Regions from separate parts of the Homo sapiens genome. Here regions 1 and 2 are each linked to region 3. Evidence: fine-mapped expression QTL. A gene starts in region 3. Each other region holds a variant in brackets. All regions are shown on one strand. Distances are from middle to middle. Region 1 has its middle 160 kb from the start of CAPN13. Region 2 overlaps LCLAT1 (lysocardiolipin acyltransferase 1). Region 3 holds the start of LCLAT1 (lysocardiolipin acyltransferase 1).

Region 1 (7,983 bases), 200 kb after region 3:
GTGTTCAGCCCAGCCATTCTTTTTGCACAATACATTCTTAATGATGTTTGCTTGAAGTCATTCATAAAGCATCCTGTTTGTTTTAAATGAAAGCTGGGTGGAGAAGTTTACAAATTTAAAATTTAAAAATTTTTTTAAATTTTTTAAATTTAAATTTAAAATAAAATAAAATTTAAATTTATTTTATTTTTTTTTTTTAAAAAGGCCAGGTGTGGTGGCTCATGCCTGTAATCCCAGCACTTTGGGAGGCTGAGGCAGACGGATCACCTTAGGTCAGGAGTTTGAGATCAGCCTGGCCAATATGGTGAAACCCCATCTCTACTGAAAATACAAAAATTAGCCAGGTGTGGTGGCGGGCGCCTGTAATCCCAGCTATTCAGGAGACTGAGGCAGGAGAATCACTTGAATCCAGGAGGCAGAGGTTTCAGTAAGCTGAGATTGTGCCACTGTACTCCAGCCTGGGCAACACAGCGAGACTCTGTCTCAAAAATAATAATAATAATAATTGAAGTGCAAGTCCATCTACTTCTGGAAAATAGATTTTTTGACAAGAATAAAAGTATTTTTGATATGATTCACCAAAATATTAGTATCTGAACTCTTAGAAAAGTGGGCTCAACATGTGTGCCCTCAGGAAGCCTTGCTCAGGTGATTTCGCCATGCCCTCTTCTACACTTGAACAGAGGAGAACTCGCCAAGGTCTAACATAATTATTACACATTTACCCTTGTCCCACAATCCTGCTTCTAAGAACCTATTCCAACAATACACTAGCCAAAACAAAAACGATAATAATTGTAAGGTGCACACACAAAACTCCATAGCCCTCTCCATAAGAATACTGGAAACTACCTAAATGTCTGTGGTGGGGAACTGATTGAATAGTCCATGGTATAATTATACTGGTTACTGTCTTAGCTGTTCCCATGTTCTTAGCAGCATTGTTCACAAGCGCCAAAAGGAGTAAGCAACACAAATATCCATTGGTCGATGAATGGATAAACACAATGTGGTGTGTAGAGACACATACACACAGACACTGGAATATTAACCCTTAAAAAGAGGGAACTGTTATTTGCGATGGGGATGAATCTGGAGGATATTATACTAAGTGAAATCAGTCACCAAAAACACAAGACAATACCTACTTTGGGGTATATTTGTGAAGAATGAAAATGGAAGCTCATCTACCTAATAGTCTGGTAAGTGCTACATAAGCTTAAGGGTTTTACTACTTACGGTAAGTAGTTTTGAGTCTACTTCTGAAGCAACTGGTATAGGACTCCACCTAGTCAATGCAGGCAGCAGGTCGGCCGGTCCTGGGCAGTTGTGGTGCCGGCTGAGAGGCCAGTGTATGGGGAAGACCATCTCGCCATAGCCGTCTGCCTGTGGGAGCTTGTGAGGACTCAGGAACCTTCTGGGAGGGATGCGGGAGGGGGATTGCCACCCCTTTTCCTATCCTGGGACTTCCAGCCAAAGTGCGAGTCCCTTAGCAGAGCCAGGAAGAGTCCCAGATAAACATTCATCAAATCCGGCCAGCTCTTCTGCCACCAATAGGGTCTCCCCAAAGACCTCCCTCTGCAAACTGTCCCCAAAAGCCCCCTTGACATGACCTCTCAAGCATCCCCACTTGTGGGGAGTGAGCAGGGCACAGACAGGGCTCTCCCCAGCCTGGCTCCAGGCTTTGCTTCCTCCCTCCCAGGCCAGGACGCTTAAACCAGGTGCATTAGAATCACCTGCAGAACTTTAATACCTGCATCCAGGCCCCACCCTCAGGACCCTGACTTCATTGCTCAGGTGTGCAGCCTGAACCTCCAGAGCCATAAAAGCTCCCAGGTGATACTCATGAGCAGCCAGGGTGCTTGCTCTTCTAAGACCTCAGACTTAGGGCTTCCACTCTCTAGGCCTCTGGTCCCTCATTTGTAAAATGAGCATTTGGTCGTAAGTGTTCTGGAAGCCCGAGGTAATTTATAAGTTGATTGCATTCAGTAAATATTAACTACTGGATGTGGGGCCCTGGCTTAGGACTGGGGAAGATGCAAACATAAATAAGCTTTATTTGGCTGGGCGCAGTGGCTCATGCCTGTAATCCCAGCACTCTGGGATGCCGAGGCGGGTAGATCACTTGAGGTCAGGAGTTCGAGGCCAACATGGCGAAACCCCGTCTCTACTAAAAATACAAAAATTAGCCGGCATGGGGGCACGTGCCTGTAGTCTCAACTACTCGGGAGGCTGAGGCAGGAGAATCACTTGAACCCAGGAGGCAGAGGTTGCAGTGAGCCAAGATCACACCACTGCACCCCAGCCTGGGTGAAAGAGAAAGACTCTATCTCAAAAAATAAATAAGCTTTATTCTTTGCCCTATGCACACGTGTGTATATGTGCACACACACTCTTTTCCTTCTGAAAAAAAAAAAAAAAAACCACCACTGTTTATGAAGCATTAGCTTCCAGAATGTGAAGCCAACCAGACAGAACTGAAGAGGGCAAATAAACAAGAGAGGGCATCCTGTGCCAAGGCATAGCCTTGTATCTGGTACAAAAATTTGGGTGCAGGCAGGCCTGAAGGCTTCCCAGACATACCTGGTGAGCACAGGGCACTGACCCTGTTACCACCTTGTCCATTGCCCAGGGGCTAAGTAGGTGTTGTGGACAGTAGCTGACAGTGCAATCTCCAGAAACCATTATGAAATGACAAATGACCACAGCCTGCTCCCTGTTACCATTTATATCCACCTTGCTGACAATGGGAATTTTCTATCCCATGGGCTGGCTGGAGAAAGGGCCCTTCTCTTCAACTCTTCGTGCTGTAAGATTGAAACTCCATCTAAGAAATAACCCCTTATGCCCAGCACCTGCCAGGGAAGGGAGCAGCAGACTTGGTTCCCCAGGGCTGGTTCCTTTGGTGGCAGGGAGTGGGCCTAGGAAGGGGGTGGACTGCTCAGGGGGTGCGAGTGCACAGTGACAAATGTGAGGCTGCGCCTGCAGCCAGGCAACAGCAGGCATGGGCTTTGAGGAAGCATGAGATCATTCCGAGGAGGAGAAGGGTGCACAGAGCCAAGAAGATGTCCCCAGCCTGCCTCCTCTGGTGGAGATAACTTCACTCATCCTGAGGCTATGATGGCTGGAGAGCCAGCTGCCTTGAGGAGCCAGCCGGGGATTCTGCTCAGGAGAGCCACTGAGGATAAGTCAGCCATGGGTCCTTCTAGGGAAGTTGTGGGGGAAACAGTGGCTGGAGACAGGGTCAGCTTCATGGGTGTGCAACTGGTGCATCTGCATAGGGCCCTGCCCTCAAAAGGGGCCCATACTCTGCTGTCGCTGTCTTGAAGTTCTTAATAGTTTTTGAACAAAGGACCTCCCATTTTCTTTTTGCAGCAAGCCTTGCAAATTATGCAGCTGGTCCTTGCTGGTGGCTATAGTAGGCTGAGGAAAGTCTGATTTAGAATCATGGTCCTCAGCCCTGGCTGCTCATGGAAATCACCCAGGACACTTCAAAACTACAGGCAGCCGGCCTTCTCACCCAACCCCAGAATGAAGACAGGCACCCTCCCTGGTGATTCTCACGCACAGCCAGGCTGGAGAAAGTGGATTTCGAGGAATGATGCTCCCTTGCTCGTGGCCTGTAAGAAGCCCTGGCTGAGCTGTGGCACCCGCTCCTGAAGAGGCCTCACTATGCAGTCTGGCATCATGGAGCCCACTATGCTGTCCTAAAGGCCTCTCCCCTGTCTCCTGGAGACCACACAGACCTGAAGGTTGGGACTAGATCTTATTCA[T/C]ATTTGCACCAGTCACACAGCTGGTGCTCAAGAAACTTATTTTCCCTCTAACTTGTTTGAACTAAACAACAACATGACCTCCGCATTTTTATCATTGCCTCCTTAAATTGTGGGGCTAAAACACCCCATGACTCACTAGCACAAACTGCTCCTACTAGCCAGAGGAGTGTGGATGCTAAAGAAGGACTTCTCATCTCTGGCTGATATTCCTCTGCTACTCCTGAGCTCCAGCTACTACTTGAGAATTGCACTTCCACTACAGCTCCTTCAAAGGCTAATTGCCTTATCAGATATTTCAGTTGTCCTGTTGTTTCTCAGAAACTTTTAAAATAGTTTAATTTTGAAATATCTATTGTTTTCACGTGTGTGAAGTGCACTGTGTTTTGCCCGTGCATTCTGCTAAGTCCTTCTGTGTTTATTTTTGCAGAAGGCATTAGAGATGAGGAGCCTGCTGTTCTCGTGCAGCACATAACCCAGGTGGAAACAGATTACATTAGGGCCATGACAGGTGGTGGTAGGTCAAGGGGTGATGGAGACTTTCCGAGATTCCAGCAGTGCCAAAGGATTTGAAGGTAGTAGAGGGTAGGTCCTGTTTTATTATAAGTTGTTATGTCCCATTTGGTTAGAATACTCTAGAAAAGCAGAAAACCATTTCTAGAATATTCTAGAAAAACGTTTGAGTCCTGAGACCTCTTTACACACTTACAAATTATTGAGGCCTCTAAAGAACTTTATGTGGATTATATCCATCAATATTTACTGTAACAAATATTCATATTTGTATATTATGTATATTTATATTTGACTATGTTTATAGTCATAATATTCATGTATATTTATATATCTATGTTTATGAATATATGTGTATATATTTAAAATAAATGTATTATATGTTAAAGTAAATGATTAATTTTTATCAAAAATAACTATTTTCCAAAACAAAAATTTAGTGAGAAGTATGGCATTGTTTTACATTTTGCCCATCTCTTCAATGTCTGGGTTACTAGAGGCTGAATTCTCATACCTGTTCCACAGTCAACCTGCTGAATATCGCATGTCATGTAGCCTCTGGACAACTCCACTGTACACTTTTGAGAAAATGAGAGTAAAAAAGGCAAATAACATCTTAGTATTTCCCCAAACACTACCCAATCAGAGAGCAGAGAATACCGTTTTGACCTGATGGACCCCCTGAAAAGGTCTTGGGGTGTCCCCGGTGTAAGAACCACTTTCTGGATGTCTGTGTCTGGCATGTGATTTGGCAGCCGGGGCTCTGAAAGACAGGGAGGAGTCGGGGAGAGCCAGGCCTGGTGATCAGGAGACAGGGCTGTGGACCCAGCTCCCTCAACTCCACAGCTGTAACACGGAGCACGTCCCTTCCCATCTCTGATCTCTCTGCATCTTAGTTTCCTCATCTGTAAATTGATGACACTGAGCTACACCAAAGGATTTCACCCAAGCTAAATAACAGAACCACCTGGAGAGCTGTGGGAATGTCCAAAAGCCAGGCCTCGCTCCAGAACGATGGTATCAGGATATCGGAATGTGAAGCTGGGTGTATCTGAAAAACTCCTCATGTGGCACATCGAAAGGTCACAGGTGCCAACCTAAAGGCGTCCCCAGACATCAAAGCTGGAACAATTTGAGCAACAAAATAATGATAGAACGGATAACCCACAGGGTACAGGAAATATTCATAAGTTCATAGTAACAAAAAATTAAATATATAGTAAATGGGGAGAAGGAGACACTCTTCCTTACAGTAGCATTCCAATTAATAAATGTTGAAAAATGATGGAGATAGCAAGCCACCATTTGGCAAACACCACAGTAATAATTGTTGCAGACACAAATCATTGATGGATACTGAATTGAGTAAAAATATATGAGAAACGTGATACGTGCATAGCCTTGCAGTATCTCCCCAGGAGCTAGCATTAATTACAAAGGGAAAAATAAAACTTTACAGAGAAGAAGTCTAGCAAACACCATCTTAAGTGATCAAGGCCAACACCACCAGGCCTAAGAGATATTGATGTCAGGTACTCCCTGAGAAAGACACAACATTATTCTTGCAAAAAATACGTAATCTGATCCTGAGAAAACCTCAGACCACCTAAAGTGAGAGACATTTACAAATCAGCAGGCCAGCCCTCTTTGAAAGTGTCAAGGTCAAGAAAGACAAAGGCTGAGGAATTGTTGTCGATGGGGGAGACTAAAGAGACATGACAACTACCTGGAATGTGGGATCCTGAACTGGATCCTGGCGAAATGTGAATATGTTCTGTCGATAAGTTAATCATATTGTGTCAGCGTTAATTTCTCGGGCTTGGTAACTGTACTCTGGCTATGTAAGATGGCAGCATTTAGGGGAGCTGAGTGAAGTGTACACTCCTGCCTCAAGATTCTTTGCTCTGTGGTTCCTTCTGCTGGGGGCACTCTTTTCCCAGATATTCATGCGGTTTGTTTATTCATTCTCTTCCTGTCTTTACTCAGATATGCTGAGGCATGAGATGCCATCAATTTTTCCACCAAGGGAGAATGTCATTAAACCAAGCTCTGTGCTCCCCATTCACTTTTCAGAAGCATCCCACAAACTTCCCATTGAGAAGGAGAAGGAAAATATCAAGCAGGGGAGGGGCCGGGCTAGTGCTTCATGGTTCTTGGCCAGATGAAAAGAAGGTCAGGGGATATAAGCCATGAGAGGGGCTTGCAAATATCCAAATGGGGGTGGTGGTAGGCAGACAAAACGCAGCTTCTATCCACCATACCTCTGGCCCAGGGCCCAGGGCCAGAGTCACGCCTGGTCAGGGATGGCCAATAGCACCCTTCACCCTCAGCTCACCACTGGGAACCAGATGTTTCCAGGCTCTCCCTGATCAGAGGACAGGGCACACAGACCAATTTGTACCCCAAATTGTCCTGTTTGGGATGCACATCTGCTGTAATGATGGGAGGAGGTCAGACCCTGCCAAAGAATTTTACAGAAAACTAATGAAAATCGGCTGGGCATGGTGGTCCATGCCTGTAATCCCAGTACTTTGGGACGCCCAGGCAGGTGGATGGCTTGGGCCCAGGAGTTCGAGACCATTCTGGGCAATATAGCAAGACCCTGTCTCTTAAAAAAAAAAAAAAATCCATTATCCTTTTCCACCCATTCTTTGATTCAAATCTCATGGCATTCAGTGATGGAGAAAAGCTGGGCCAAGCATATTATGTCCCTTTCTCAGATGTGGAACTTAAGACTTGGTTAAGTTTTTTCCTAAAATCACATAGGTAGGACGCAATCCCAAGTCAGCTTTTCTGGGGAGCAGCTAAGTCTCTGTACTGTTGCATTTTATCCAAGACCAGTCATTGTGGCCCATGAGGCAGTGTTTGGGGTTCACTGACACTATACTTGGGCTATGGAGATGTGTGTTTGAATCTAGCTCAGCCACTTAGGAGCTGTGTAATCTTGGGCACGGCCCTTAATGTTTTCGGGGTTCATGTTGCCATGATATGGATAACGTATGAGAAAGCGACTTATAAACTGCACAGTATCATGCTTGTTACCTATTAGCATTTGTATAAGGGCAGCAATAAGGGTCACTATTCCACAGCTTGCTATGATGATCAAATGACCACAGTGCAAATAATAGCTGCATATATGGAGTCTTGCTCTACACCAGGCACTGTGCTTTGTACACATGTGAATCATCTTTTTGAGTCCTCCTTATAACTCTATGAGATAGTGTTTGAGTTTTTCTATTGCTGTGTAGGAAACCTCCAAAGCCCTAGTGACTTCATAACAAGAATCACTCATTATCTCACAGCTCTGTGGGTTGCCAAGGCATTTCTTCTGCCTCCTGTGGTGCTGGGTGAGCTCTGCTGTGGCCTCAGTCATGTGGCTGGCAGGCAGTGCTGGCCACTGGTTGGGAGCTCAGTGAGGATCTTGGCCAGGGTCCTTGACTCTCCTCCCCGCAGGCTTTTCCACACACCTGCTTGGGCTTTCTCATGGCGTGGTGGTTGAATTTTCTAAGAAGGAATATTCCAAAGGATGAGCTCCTATGTGCAAATGTTCGCCAAACCTCCGTTTGCATCACTTTTGGCCAAAGCTTGTCCCAGAGCCAGCGTGGTTCACTGGAGCTACCGAAGAACAGCCTTCTGCAGATAGGGACTACTGCTCTCCCCATTTTACAGGTGAGGAAACTGAGGCTTAGAAGGGGTAAGT
Region 2 (7,983 bases), 100 kb after region 3:
GTCAGATTTTCAGTTTGATCTGTAGTTTATTGATGTATTTATAAACATTACAATAAATTTGTGTAAATAAATGTGCCATTGCTAACACAGTTTTAAGAATTACTAAATTTACTGAAGTCACCTTAATTTTATTTACTATCACATGTTAGCCACAAAGAATAGATGTCTGTTTGACATATTTAAAATCTATAATGCCTAACTTTACCTCCTGTGAGAAGGAAAACTCCCCCTTTCTTACCCAGCTTCCTCCTACTTAAAACAGACATTCACTAAAATTAGAACAAAGTCATGAATATTTTTGACTCTATCCAGTTTGGTGGGTTCTTTTTTTAATTCAACACAATTTCATGCTGCCCTCCTGCTCATAACAAGAATAAGATGAATGGATTCATCTTATTGATGAATGTATTAAGATGAATAGATTCATCTTATTGGCGATTTTGTGCCAGGAAACTCACATGCTAGTTGTCCCTTCCCAAATTAAGCCCCCACAGGACTCAGTAACACTCCACTCCTGCCAGTTCCTTTAGTGCAATCATAGGCATTAGTTTTGCTACCTACAGTAGGTAAAGGTGCCTTATTACCCAAAAGTAACAACAGCTTGAGCCTTCCTGGAATGAATCTCTGCAGCTAGTGTGTTTGAAGCTCCACCTGTGACTCTTTCTTCAAAGGGGGCTTCTAGTCAAGGATTCCTAGCTACTTATTAACTATGCTATAGCTATTACTGTCACAGCAAACTTTCTGATGTCCTGGCCTTCTTTATTATATTGATAAGATTATGGTATCCTATTAAATAATCATATAAAGCTTCACAACAGCCTTCTTCCTCTGTGTTATTCCACATATTACTTAATAACTAAAGGTCAGAAGTAGTATTTTACTAATCTTAACAGTGAACCACTGTGATGCACACATCCTATGACAGAGAATGAAAATACCAGATACTGGCTTTCTCAGCCTCCTGTCAGCAGGGATGGTTGTTTGAGCCAGTCTAACCAAAGGGTCTTATGGGAGTCTGTTGGAGTCTCTGGGAAAGATACTCCTCCTTAATAAGATGAAAGAAGTCAATGAAGGTCCAGTGCCACTCTTTTCTGCTTGTGGACAGTATTGTGTTAGCACATGAGGCTTGGAACTTTTGCAGGCATTCCCTCAAAGAGGGGGAGGTCCTCAGACATCAGGAGGATGGCATAGTAGAGTGGGAGATCCTGGCTCCTGAACTAGCGTTGGGGCCAGACTTTATTTTACGTGAGAAGCGTAAACCCAAATTGTTTATATGACTTTTAGATTGGTATTCTGTTATTTATAGCCAAAAGCATCCTGATGTAACTTGCTTTCCCCTATTTCACCAAGCCATAAGAAATGTATCCATTGTTTGATTTACTCGTTCAGTAAATTTTATTAATGCTAGTCATGAATGAAAATTTTTATGAAAACCATCAAATAAAGTAGAATATGTTAAACATATTTTAGTTCTGTTGCCTGGAAGACACACATACATCTCTGCTTGTTTTTAGATATATAACAGATTATTTCATTTTAGCAATTCTATTGGTATTTGAAACATAAAGTTTTGGTAATTGTTGATTTTGTAGTTTTGGTTGCCAGCATTGCTTGGCCGAGATGAGTTTTGATGCATGGCCGGGAGGGTGGTAAGTAGTGGGGATATACGTTTGTTGACGAAAAGAATCGAACTCTGTAAAATATTTGAAGAGATTTATTCTGAGCCAAATGTGATTGACCATGGCCTGTAACACAGCCCTCAAGAAGTCCTGAGAACATGTGCCCAAAGTGGTCGGGGTACAGCTTGGGTTTATATATTTTAGGGAGCCACGGGACATCAATCAAATACATTTAAGAAATACATTGGTTTGGTTCAGAAAGGTGGGACAACTTAAAGCAGGGGCTTCCAGGCTATAGGTAAATTTAAACATTTACTGGTTTACAATTGGCCGAGTTTATGTGAAGACCTGGGATTAATGGAAAGGATTGTTTAGGTTAAGGTAAAGGATTGCGGAGACCAGGTTTTTTTGTGCAGAGGAATCTCTCAGATAGCAAACTTCAGAGAGAGAGCAGGTTGTAAAATGTTTCTTATCAGATTTAAAAGGGTGTCTGGCTCTTAGCTGATTATCTCCTAGATCTGGAAAGAAAGGAAGGAAAATAAAGGGATAAGGGGATTATCTATATAATGTGGATTTTTCCCACAAAAAACTTTACAAGGCAATTTCAAAGTATGGCAAGGTAATATATTTTGGGGTAAAACATTTTGATTTTTTCCCTTGTTATGCCTGAGTAAGACTGGAAAGTAAGTCACAATATACAGGGTTAAACAAAGCTCATGTGATGAGAATTTATGGTTTGTAGGGCATGACTCCCTAGATCCCTTAGAAAGGAATTTGGGCAAGATAAAAAATTAGAGCTTAGCCTTTACTTTCTTCCATTGGGAAGAAAAGAAAGGTTCAATTCATTTAAATCATCTGCCAGGCAGTTTTACCAGGATTACCTTTCTTTCTAGAATGACATTGAGAACTAAGTAATTTTTTAGGATGGCATTGAAATCTAAATAACTTAAATGAAGCTTTTGTTTTGAATGTGTTATCTGACTTCTGAACAGAGCTGAAGCCCTGAGCTGTGTGAAGTTGACAGTTTCTTTGGCCAGGAGAAATGGCTGGGGGCTTTAAGGTTATCTAATCAATCACTTACTGACATTAATGCAATTGGTTACCTAAATTGGATATCCTGTTGATGTGTACTATTTCTAATACCTCAGCAAATTTACATTGCGTTAGGCTGCTAGATATCCCAGATGTGAGCTAGGAAGCGAATTTCACCTCTAGTACTTTTAGTACCCTTAGGTCTGCTGAAAATTGAGGAATTCCTTTGCTTAAATTAATAATTACATTCTAAAATTATCTAAAAGATATGCTTTTATAATGGTAACTTCAGTAGAAAGAAATTCAGAATTTGGAGGGAGCTTTAGGGTTTTGAATCTGCTTTGTATTTGGTGGAAAAGCACAAATGAAATAAATCACATAATAATCAGTTTTGAACCAACTTTGAAATGGCACTTTGCAATAATAATAGAAAAGATATGCAAGATGAACCCTCTGTATCTCATAGTTGGTAACTTTAATAGATAATTTGACTTCCATGCCTTCAGTTGTTCTTTGTCTTGGGGCTAAGTATCTGTAAATTGTGCAGGTATTTTAAAAGAGAAAGGCAACATTGTAAGACCTGGGGGAAAATGAATTAGCTGTTGTATTTATTATATATGTCATTTAAAAAATATGGCTTTTCTCCATTTATTTCATATAACAAATCTTACAGAAAATATTTTCCTTATGCTTGAAGTCAGATGTTTCTGAGTGTTACACTGTTGTGTAATGAATACCAGGCAGGGACATATTATGTAGCCAAGAATTAAAAATGTTCTTCCACAATGAAAATAATGTCAAAACTATATCTTTAGAAATGCTGTTACTGATAATCTTCAATT[A/G]TTACAACCAAGTAATATGGTATAGTAAGCGAATTCCAAGTAAGATTATTTAGGCCTTGATTTTGAATGGAAAATGGCCATTATTTGTGTATTTTTTTAGTCAAACACAAGTTTGCATCAACAAATAGATGTTCTGAAGTAAACTTTTTATATGGAATCATTTTAGATTTATTGAAAATTTGTAATAACAGTACAGAGAATTTTCCTATCTTTTTCACCCAGCTTCTCTGATGTTAACATCTTATATGGTATATCTGTTGAAACAAGAGGTTAATTTTGGTGCAATACTATTAACAATGGACTTTATTCAGACTTCACCAATTTTTCCACTAATGTCCTTTTGTGGTTCTAGGATCCAACTGAGAATACCACCTTGCTTTTTAGTCATTGTATCTTCCTAGTCTTCCTTCATTTTGTGATAGTCTTTTCTTGCTTTTCATGGTGCCTTTGAAAAGTACTGGTTGGACATTTTGTAGAATGTTCCTCAGTTTGGGTTTGTCTGATGTTTTCTTGTGATTAGACTAGAGCTGTAGGCTTGGGGGAAGAATACTGTAGAGGTGGAGTACCCTTCTCATGTCAGAGGTTCATGATATCAACATGGCTTATCACTGGTGATGTTAATCTTAATCACTTAGTTAAGGTGGTATCTGTCAGGTTTCTTTACTGCAAAGATGCTGTTTTCCCCTTTACATTTACATACTCAATCCACTAAGCACAGCCCACACTCAAAGGCTGGCTGTTGGGGGAAAGGAATGAAGCTCTACTTCCTGGAGTGCAGACTATTTATATATATTATTCATACTTCTGTGGAAAATATTTGCCCCTACTCCCCATTTATTTAATTAGTAATTTAATAATATCAATATGGACTCATTGATATTTATTTTAATTTTTAGATTATAATCTGGTACTATCATTATTTTGCTGCTGAAAGTAATGGCCAGCTTTGGCCATTGGGAGTTTTCTTTTCTTGAGACAGGGTCTTGCTCTGTCATCCAGGTTGGTGTGCGGTGGTGCGTTCACAGCTCACTGCATCCTTGACCTCCTGGGCTCAAGCAATCCTTCCGCCTCAGCCTCCTTAATAGCTGGGACTATAGGTACATGCCACCTTGCCTGGCTAATTTAAAATAAATTTTAAAAGACAACAACTTTTTTTTTTGTAGAGAAGTGGTGGGTATCGCTACATTGCCCAGGTTGGTCTTGAACTCCTGGGCTCACGCCAACCTCCTGCCTTGGCTTCCCAAAGTGCTGAGATTATAGGCATGAGCCACTGCGCCTAGCCTGGGAGTGCCTGAAGGTTGGCTCTTATGTCCTTTTGACATACTACCATCTTTTTTCTTTTAACCACTTATTTTTTTGGCACTTTAAATTCTCCAGGTTCATCTTGTATTTTTCCTTGCCCCATCCCTAGACTCAGCATTTCGCTAAGGAGCCCTAGATCCCTTTTTTTTATGAAGAATGATGTGAGAAACTAAAATCTAGGCACTTACTATGCTCTGTATGAGTTTTCCATTGCAGCTTATACTACAAATATAGAGTGGTTTAAAGGACACAAATTTATTATATAACAGTTTTAGAGGTTTGATGTGGGTTCTACTGGGCTGAAATCAAGGCATTGGCAGGACTGGTTTCTTTCTGTAGGATTGCTACGGGATCTGTTTCCTAGCCTTTTCTAGCTTCTAATGGATGCCTACATTCCTTGGCTTGTGGCCCCTTCTTCTGGCTTCAAAGCCAGCATTGGCTGGTTGAGTCCTTCTCACATCAGTACTAAGTCATCTTGTGCCTCCCTCTTCCACTTAAAAAAAATTTATTTTTAATTTTCATAGGTACATAGTAGGTATATATTTATGGGGTTTCTCTCCCACCTTTAATGACACTTATGATTACATTGGGCCCACTAGAATAATCTAGGCTAATCTCACTACCTTAAATTCGTCTGATTAGCAATCTTAATTCCCCTTTGCTGTATAACACAGTGCCTTCACAGTTCCAGGAATTAAGATGTGGACATCTTTTGGGGGATGATTATTCTGCCTACCATATGTTAATTGCTACTGGGATGTCTTTGATTATAGGTCCTCTCAGTGTGCAAAGCTAGGAATGTACTTAGGAATCAGTTTTGCAACAGGAAGAAATATCTCAGATAATAGCTCATTTAGAAAATTGGTCAAATTTCCAATCTCATATAATATGAAAGATGAGTTTGGTCTCTCTCATGTTAACATGAACCCCAAAATTGTAACATGACCAAGAAGCCTCATTGTCAAGCAAGAATTTTTACTGTCTGCATGTGTATATGATTATGTTTGTGGAGTCTAGTGAAATTTGTAGTACAAGTGGTTTCTCCATTTTTCTCCACTTTTTGGTGTGTCAAGTTTGAAATTATATTTAGAATTAAGTTTGTTAGAGTATTATGTAATTATTACTTGCTCATATTTTATACTTTGATTTCTATCTTGTATTTTCAGCACAGTCACATTTGAAACCTAATGATACAGGCATACTACAACAGGATTGTTGCTGCAAAAATGTCATAAAATTACCTGTCATCAGAGTTTTTAAAAGCCTTCGTGGAAATTAATCATCTTAGAAGAGGGATGTGGAGAGCATTACCCAGTTTGTAATGTGAGTTCAGAAAAGATAGATCTTCCTTAACTTTATCTATCCAGCATTTAGCACCCTAATAAAAGTTGAAATTCTGAAAAGTATAACTACTTGTTACTTAACTCCCTGATTTATTTGTATAACTACTATTAATTATGGACAGATCCATACTCAGTAAATACAGTATTTTCTTATGATCTTTGTGATAAAAGTTTATATAAAATTTGCATCTGTTCCTATTGTTCATTCTCATTTAATAGAGGCCTATGGGTAGCATTTCTGTGGTTGCATCCACATCGTTTATTCAGGATTGAAAATAATGTCGAAGGAGCAGTTGTCTGTCTTTCTTCCGCCCTGCTTTTTCTTCTGGTGTCATATTCATAGTGCCATAGTAGATGCCATATTGAGTTACTACAAGGACAGCAGTGATAAATTTTACCCTATTGTTGAGATTGAGTTATTAGAGCATTAGGTGAGTAGTGCTGATGTTTTCATTACTCAGTTAACTATATTCATCTACACTGAAATGAAAAAAAAAAGTTGTGAAAAGGCTTACTTTTTATTAAGAATGCATAATGCCAAAATACACATTCAAGTAAATGGTTATTTTTTTCTCCCCCTAGGCAACGCTAAAACTTGGTAAAAGGGAATGTAAGTCAAAACTAGGTTCTAAAATGATGAGATAGGTTTGGACAATAGAGTATGCCGAGGGATTATTTACAACTGCTTTGAGAAGGCGATGCTGATAACGTAAATGAGGTTTTAGAAAGAAGATGGTGGTAGTGGAGCTATGCCAGTATATATAGATTCTATCTTTATAAACCTGCCAGACTCCCAGCCCTCGTCTGAGAAATTCAGGTTAAAGACAGAATATCCTGCAGTGGAAAAGTATGAAAAAGACAAATTGCCGGGCGCGGTGGCTCACGCCTGTAATCCCAGCACTTTGGGAGGCCGAGGCGGGTGGATCATGAGGTCAGGAGATCGAGACCATCCTGGCTAACAAGGTGAAACCCCGTCTCTACTAAAAATACAAAAAATTAGCCGGGCGCGGTGGTGGGCGCCTGTAGTCCCAGCTACTCGGGAGGCTGAGGCAGGAGAATGGCGTGAACCCGGGAAGCGGAGCTTGCAGTGAGCCGAGATTGCGCCACTGCAGTCCGCAGTCCGGCCTGGGCGACAGAGCGAGACTCCGTCTCAAAAAAAAAAAAGACAAATTATATATGCTGATTTTAAAGATACAGGTTGCGCTATCATTAGCTCATAGAAATATGAAATAAATGTCATAAAAATGTGTTTTTTGAGGATCTTAACATTAAGAAAAATCTGAGTAACACTTTAAACATGGATACAATTTGCATTGATGACAATCAAATGGAAAAAAACCCAAACCCCTTGCCAGGTATTCCTGTGATTTTTTTATCGGGAAAAAAAGAGAAAAACATTTAAGCTAAAAGAAGTAAAAAAGATTTAGAAACATTGGCTTGGAGTTTCTAGAAGATATGTAACAAAATATTAGAAAAGTTTTATAGCAAAACCTCATGGATATTGCTACCACTTCCATCCCACATGGGGAGCAAGAGGTATTCTCACTTGCAATGCAGAAATACATTCGACCTGTCAGTATTGTTCAGTCTAGAACATCCTTTACAAATATGAGACTCTGCAGGATTAGTAAACATTTAAGGAAAATGTTAAACAGTATCTAGTACTAAAAAATGGAAAATCTAATCTCTGACAAATAAATAATTCTCTAAGGAGAATATAAACTATGTGTAATTAATACCTGTGGAAAGATTCAAGTATCTATGCAGAGAGGTTGTTTAGTACCGTGATTTAAAAATATCAAGTCTGGTGTCAGACTGCCTGTGTTTAAAATCTGGTTTTACCAC
Region 3 (7,983 bases):
GGTGTTCCTTACTGATACAGAGGGTTTGTATTGAGTAGTAGCAATAGGATAAAATTGTTTTTTTCTATGTTGGATGAGTGACTCATCACCAGGGTTCTAAACATACTTTCTGGTAGTTGTATCTTTTTAGCCTAAGTGAAATTTTGGTCCATCAATATATCAGTTAGGTTTTCACAAGAAACAAGTGACACCCTTGGCACAGAGGGATGATTAAAGAGAGTTGAAGGCTGACTACAAAGGTACAATCAGCGTTAAGGGAAATTAACAGAGGGCAATGAAGTACCCTGAGGCTAGACACAATAAGTTAGGCCATCACACACCCTGTGGGCCCTGCCTAAAGGGACAAGGCGGGGAGTGGGTCCCAGAATCCAGTGAGAGCTGGGCTCTAGACAAGGAGCTGTGGCCTTACGTGAAGTGTTGAAGCCACTGCCACCCTGCAGCCCCACAGGGAGGGAGCCAGGGGAATGCAGCCTTGAGCTGTTTCTCAGCCCACCCTGCAGAGTCCAGCCAGGGCCTCCCATTGGCTAAACCCTGCCAGAGGCAAAAGACCAGGAGTCAGGAGAGGAAAGCCGGACAAGTCAGCATAAAGATGGGGGTGGGGCCGGGCGAGGTGGCTCACACCTGTAATTCCACCAGTTTGGGAAGCTGAGGGGGGTGGATCACCGGAGGTCAGGAGTTCAAGACCAGCCTGACCAACATGGAGATACCCGGTCTCTACTGAAAATACAAAATTAGCCAGGTGTGGTTGGCACATGCATGTAATCCCAGTTGCTCGGGAGGATAAGGCAGGAGAATTGCTTGAACCCGGGAGGCCGAGGTTGTGGTGAGCTAGGATGGTGCCATTGCACTCCAGCCTGGGCAACAACAGCGAAACTCTGTCTCAACAACAACAACAAAAAAGATGGGGGTGGGGAACGGGGAAGGGGAGAGATGGAGCAAAAAGAGAATAATCAGAACTATTAATAATTAGACTCCACAGCTGTTTTGTGCTAATGTAAATTTGTCACTACTTCCAAGCTGTACCTTCTAGCACCAAAACTCCTCAGCTACCAAAGACATGGCTTACTCCATGTCTCAAGAAATTAAAACATTTCATTTCAAATGCCTTTTGAATTTCAGAATCTCGTTGGATGACTGGTGATATTAGGTAATGCTAAGTCTCATTCATAGAAATTTTTGCAAAGAGGGAATTGCAAAAGAAATTTTGCAATTCTTGCTTGCAAGCAATAAACTGTAGGCTATAATAAATGGGCCACTCTGGGCCTCCAGTTAAGTATCTGTGGCCTCTGCTGGCACTGGGCTGCATGTTGCTTGTATTCATTACCTTGGGAGAGACTTGCTCCGATTTTATTGGCGGCAATGTACTTGGCTCTTTTCTGAGGTCTGTTATTGAGCACAGATTTTCCCTTATTACTCTCACATTTTGAAGAGGAGTGAGCAATTACATGGGCATAGAAAGTACCCCAATAATGACAAAAGTACAATAAGAACTAGGACTTGAGATTTCCTGTATGTCATAGTGTGTCCCTGAGCATTACAGAGAGTGCCCTATTAAATGTGACCATTAAGTCAATGGCTCATGAGGTTCAGCAATTCATCAGCTGTGATGCTCTGTTACTGGGGTCAGGAAAGATTGAGAAACTTGTCCCTTTGGGACAGTAGAGCACAGATTAACACCACTTTTTAAGTGTTATATACTACAATGTAATAATAATAGAAATAAAGTGCACAATAAATGTAATGTGGTTGAATCATCCCGAAATCACCCCCTTCACCCTTCACCCCGTTCATGGAAAAACTGTCTTCCACGAAAGCAGTCCCTGGTGCCAAAAAGGTCGGGGACTACTTCTCTGGATGTCTTGATGAAATACATACATTTCAGACGCGGATAAACCCCACAAAAATTCAGGAGCTTGCTACATTGGTGATATTTTAAAATAATTATTTAAAAAACTGGGGGGGTAGTTTTAGACTTAGGAGAGATGTAAAGAGAGTACAGGGATTTTTCCATATATTCTTTACCTAGCTTCCCCTTATGTCAACATCTTGTGTAAGCATAGAACATGTATCAAAACAAAGAATGATCCTGGTACAATAGCATTATGTAAACTATACATCATTTTGGATGCTGAAGTGGTCCAATGATCTTGGGCACGTCAAGACATTTTCCCCAGAATGAAAAACATGTTACTACACCTTGCACCTCTGCCAAAAAGAAAGAAGCATGACACTTAGCAGATCTCTGAGTTTAGAAATCAGCATATTTTGCCCTTGGGAATTCTGTTCCTATCCCTTTAGCAGTTGACGTGGAAGGTGGCTACTGATCAGTAGCTCAGATCAAGAACGGGCTCAGGGCCAGGCGCGGTGGCTCAAGCCTCTAATCCCAGCACTTTGAGAGGCCAAGGTGGGTGGATAGCTTGAGCTCAGGAGTTCGAGACCAGCCTGGCAACATGTTGAAATCCTGTCTCTACAAAAAACACAAAATTAGCTGGGCATGGTGGCAGATGCCTGTAGTTCCAGTTAGTCTGGAGGCTGAGGTGGGAGGATTGCTTGAGTCCAGGAGGCAGGGGTTGTAGTGGGCCACAATCATGCCACTGCACTCCAGCCTAGGTGACAGAGCGAGACCCTGTCTCAAAAAAAAAAAAAAAAAAAAAAAAAGCAAAGAAAAGAAAAAAGAAAGAGCCCAGCACTGTCCTCTGTGGTTAGGGCGGTAAGGGCAACCTTGCCTCTTGGGCTGTATCACCGGACACACCTCACAATGCTAGAGCTCTCTGCAATGGAGCTGCAAAGGCTATGAGGAACCTCCGGCAAGCCCCCAAAGAACCACAGTAGAGCCCTTGAAGGTTCTGGAGCATAGCCAGGCCAACTCTTAACAACAACAAAAAAGAATTGGGAGATCTTTTATTCCAGTAATCTTATTTTAAAGGTAAAAAGGAGGCCTAAAGTCATAGGCATAATTGGCAGAATTGACTTTTGTTCTGGTGTTTCTCTCTGTAGTCATTCTTCACTTTCTGATGCAATTTTAGCACATCTTAAATATTAAAATGTTTTGGAACAAACTTAGAGAAATTATGAAGCTAATTTAGGAAAAGAGCACAAGAATCTTTGATTTACAGGCAATTTGGGGATATAATTTAGCTATATTGAAGCTATGCAGCCAACATGTAGATGGTCATTATTATTACACCATAAATTTTGTGAGGTCAGGAACCTTGTAATTTTAAAAATATTCACTCTGTGCTTTGTTGAATAAACGGATAAAACGTATAGACATACATGAACTACTGATGAGTGGCTGTGTGTGATGTGTAGCTATGTTTATTATTTTTAAGATTCTTATTGTATTTGTTGAAGGCCAAGTTGAGGAGGGAATTGCTTAAGGGAAATGAAAAGGGGTTTAACCACAGTCCCCACCATTCAGGGGCATGCAATCTAGTAGGTTAGGGGACAGGACAGACACACCATGATAGGTGATCGAGACCTTTTAAGAGCAGTGTGATGAAATTGCTATGGGAACTGGGAGGAAACATTTTCTAGGACTGGGGAAACACTGAGTGTGCTAGAAAAACTTTGTGCTCCTGATCAGGGAACCTGGGTTCTATAACTGCTTCTACTACTGATTTGTCCTGTGACTTCGCGCACCAAATTTAGGCTTGTAAATTAAACTCCCAGATTTCTGTTTTCCATTTTGCAGCTCTAGGGGTTGAATGAACCATTAGGTTCCCTCGGACAAATGACCTCCGCTAATTTCCTATTTCGTTGTTTTCTCACCCCTACACCCCACCGTTCCGTGGGTCCCTCCTCTCCAGGAGGCCAGACGAGGAAATAAGCGAGGCCTCTTTAAAGGAGCTCTCAAAGAAAGGTACCCGGGGTATCCCGGGCTGTGGAGCAAGCGCGGGGCGCCGGGGACCCGGGTTTCCCACGCAGCCGGGGACGCCGTTGCGTCACGGCGCCTGCAGCCAATCAGGACGTAGCCTTCCGGGACGCATTACTAGGGCGACGGCCGGACGCCTCCGCGTTACGGGATGAATTAACGGCGGGTTCCGCACGGAGGTTGTGACCCCTACGGAGCCCCAGCTTGCCCACGCACCCCACTCGGCGTCGCGCGGCGTGCCCTGCTTGTCACAGGTGGGAGGCTGGAACTATCAGGTGGGGTTACGGCGCGAGGAAAATGGCGGCGGCCGGGGGATCTCAGAGGTGCAGGAAGGGGAGCTGCAGCCCGGGCTTTTCCTCCTGAGCCATGGACCTTCCCCGGGCCGCGACCTCGGGTAACGGCCACTGGCCTGGCATTTGGGGTCCCGGTGCAGGTGGCGGTAGCGTCGCTGGCTCAGGTGGAAGGAGGCGCGGGGAAGCGACTCCTGGAGGCTGGCTGAGGCGTCAGGTGCTGAGGGGCCGCGCGAGCGGCGAGGGCGAGGTAGCCGCGGGGCGAAGAGGGTCCCGTCGGTGTTTACGCTAGGAGCGTCAAAACCTTCCTCCTGCGACCTCAGCGGGTCTGGGAGCTGCACTGTCCCGGAACGCAACCTGAGGTCTGACCCTGTTAAATCCCATGCACTAAAACGTCTCAAGTGGTCACCACGTGCGGGGCTTCGACGAGAGCCGTGGAGAGCAGGGGCTGGGGTTGTCTTCCCTGCGAGTCCTGCAGGCGCCAAAGGCCTGCCTGTAGGTGCCAGAGTGGCAGTGCCGCGAAAAGAAAGGTAGGCCCTAGCCAGGGCGGATGCCAAACCTGATCTTTAAGGTGTATCGTAGCTTCTAATTGCCCATTTGAAGAAAAGAAGTTGAAAGATAAGGCACTTAGATGTGGTTGTGGAGATGTTTTGCTTTCTTGTACTTCCCTGGTTCAGGTGGCTTCCCTGGAAATACTGCATCTGCCTTTAAAGTTCATTAACTGTGTTTCTTGTGTACATGGCAGTAGATGAGATTAGGGATTGAAGTCACTTTAAGTCCAAGAAAAGTATTGAAGATATGTGTTGAAGGCATTACCAAGATGAAATATTTATTCATATCATTAACTTATTTGTTCAAAGAAACGTCATCTCATGAAGTATAACTACGTGGGTTAGTTTTCAAAAAACTGACTTGATGAAAGCCCTTTTTGTAAAACATATTTTTTGAGAGTAAGTAAAAATACATCATCACTTTTTCGTTTAGGTTTCTGTTGCACATTGTACTTTGATATGCTTGATATGACAGATAAGCATAATGTTAACTGACTTTTGTTTTTGGTAGTAGGCTTGATTTTATGGAGTAGTACCTTGTTCTGTAACTGAGAAAAACGTAATAGCGCTTGTGTTTCAGTCATCAATAGCTGCAATCTCTGGAGTGCCAACTATGTGTCAGTTTCTGTGAAAGCTAGGCTTCTCCTACTTTTTAATTTGAACACATGGTCGTCTGCATCTGCCCCCACCAGGTCTTTAGGCTGGCTGTTGCTGACAACCAGGAGGAAGCAATGGGGAAAACCCAAAAGATTCTTCCAAACTGGATCCATGGAGATTTGGTCAGTTTGTCCTGGGGTTGAGGTTATGGGTGGATTCTAGTCCAAACTCTGCCACTTAAAAATATCTTAGGGTAATCATACAACTTCACTATTGGTGTCTTATCTCTAAAGTGAGTATTTCTTATTCAAACAATCTCATTGCACTGTTGGGAGGAAAAAGAAAAGACAGTATGTGTGAAAGGGCTTTAAAAAGTTAAAAAAACAGTGAAAATATTTGAAATTTATTCCTCTGCATTCATGTACTCTGCCAGGCACTGAATCCGGGGACTTATATGTGCCAACTCAGTCATCTAGCATCACTGTGAGGCGGATACATTTATTATCTTTATTTTGCAGATGAGGAAACTGAAGCACATTGAAGTTTAAGTAATTTGTCCATATCACACAATTAGCATTGTGTTTCCAGCCTGTGTTCTTACTGTCTTACTACCACCATGCCTACTATCTTCCTATGACATACAGATGTGTTATGTATTAAGGGGAAACATTAATTCATGTACAAATTTTTCATTTTTAATATATATATTTTTCTTTTTCAAAGGCTCTAGCAATGTCCTAGAATGAACACATATTTCAAGCCAGTAGTTTTGTTTGTGATCTTGTGTAAATAATAATCATGGTTTATTCCATTGGCGTCCAATAGTGATTTGTGTGGTAACAATTACATTTACTTTGGTTAAGTGGTATATTCTTCTTACTTGTGTTGCCCATTAATTAAAAAGTTATTTTGAAACAGAGTTATGACTAATTTCTTTTTTTTTTTTTTTTGAGAGGGAGGTTCGCTCTTGTTGCCAGGGCTGGAGTGCAATGGCACGATCTCGGCTCACCACAGCCTCTGCCTCCCGGGTTCAAGCGATTCTCCTGCCTCAGCCTCCTGAGTAGCTGGGATTACAGACATGTGCCACTACGCCTGGCTAATTTTGTATTGTTAGTAGAGACGGGGTTTCTCTGTGTTGGTCAGGCTAGTCTTGAGCTCCCGACCTCAGGTGATCCGCCTGCCTCAGCCTCCCAAAGTGTTGGGATTACAGGTGTGAGCCACTGTGCCTGGCTAGTTATGACTAATTTCTATCAGGAAGCACAAATCAATAATTGGGATTTTTGTTTTTATTACATTTTTTAAAAGAATAATTTGCTGGGGGACTTTTAAAAGAAAACTGATTTTAGTTAAGCTTGTTGTTTTGATATACTTGTGCTAATTTTTCCAGTCTTTATTTATTAATAAAATAGGATGAGTAAAAGTGGCTAGGACATTTATTGTTTCATTGAACCTTTATGGAATAGCCCTGCCAAGTCTTTAGGATGTAAACATTAACTCCTGACCCTACCCTTGAGGAGTTCAGGGAGAAGTCCCAGGTCCAGAAGTTTGTAGACAGTTGAGACAAATAAATAAATGATTAACTAATAAAGCATGATAAGGACTCAAATATAATTGTGGGTACAGAGACCTGTGAGAGCACATAAAAGGGAACAGTTACTTCTTCTGGGATGGGCCTGGCCAGAAGAGGAAGGGAGCTAACTGGAGGATAAAGGCGTAGGGAGAAACAGAGCAAAGCTAGGACAAGTGAGAGCTCATGGTGTCCAGGGGTCAGACCACAGTATTACAGGTGTTGCTGGGAGAGAAGCCAGGAAAGGTTAGAGCCAGGTTGTGAACTCTTAGCTAAGAGAGTGGGAACTCTCCTGCGGGCAGTGGGAACTGTAGAAGGATCTCGATTAGATGCATAGCTTCCACTTTATGCTACAAAAATGCTAGGATAATGGGTGTTAGAATTTTTTTCTTTTTACTTTAGGTTTTGAATATATTTGTACAGAAATCATTGTAATATGGAAGTAATCACTGATGGTTTCTCTAGTTTTAAAGCTGATCTCCACTTAAACGTGTGTAACACTAAAGTTGTCCAGCACCTAACAACATAACATGAATGCAGTGCAAATCGACTACAAGGTAGGGTGTGCAAATCTTGCAAAAGATGCAGGATTTCATGAAGTCAAAGCAAGGGGGAGAACTGCTGAAACCATAAGCGCAAATAAAGGACTAGTGCCTGGAATAGGCAGAGATTCTTAAAAAGGACTCAGAAAGCAATGATCATGAAAATGATTGATAAATTTGTCTTCAGACTTCTTTAAAATTGGAAACTTCTCTTCATCTGAAGACACCACTAAGAAAATGAAGAGCAAAATATGGACCGGAAGAAGAAATTTGCAATTTATATATCTGACCAAGGACTCATACCGTGTGTGTGTGTTTATTTGTGTGTGTGTAGCATAAACAAAATTAATGAGAAAAATCATTTTAAAAATGCATAGATGTCTTGAACAGGCACTGTCTATTAGAGGGTCTCAGAATGGCCAGTATGCACATAAAAAGGTACTTAACATTATTTGCCAGTGGGAAATATAAATTAAAACAATAATGAGATACTGCTATACACCTTCCAGAATAACTAAAATTAAAAAGATGGACAGTGCCGGTGTTGACAAGGGTGTAGACC

What was found. PIP is the estimated chance that this variant, and not a neighbour inherited with it, causes the effect.
Region 1: its variant is the best candidate, but not a certain one, in a credible set for the expression of LCLAT1 in lung (TOPMed, PIP 0.65).
Region 2: its variant is the best candidate, but not a certain one, in a credible set for the expression of LCLAT1 in whole blood (TOPMed, PIP 0.87).

The regions. Positions count from the first base shown.
Region 1 is chr2:30,646,472-30,654,454 of GRCh38, forward strand. No RefSeq gene overlaps it. Among named protein-coding and RNA genes, the nearest start is that of CAPN13, 160 kb to the right of the region's middle. RefSeq lists enhancers at 5,604-6,335, 6,336-7,066. The variant T/C (reference allele first, on the strand shown) is at 3,774.
Region 2 is chr2:30,546,532-30,554,514 of GRCh38, forward strand. The region is part of intron 3 of LCLAT1 (lysocardiolipin acyltransferase 1); the gene reads left to right. Among named protein-coding and RNA genes, the nearest start is that of LCLAT1, 100 kb to the left of the region's middle. The variant A/G (reference allele first, on the strand shown) is at 3,494.
Region 3 is chr2:30,443,256-30,451,238 of GRCh38, forward strand. It overlaps LCLAT1 (lysocardiolipin acyltransferase 1), which reads left to right and starts at 3,991. Exons shown (of 6, transcript NM_001002257.3): 1 at 3,991-4,128. RefSeq lists enhancers at 3,681-4,418, 3,722-3,791, 3,832-3,891, 4,102-4,221, 4,419-5,155 and 1 more.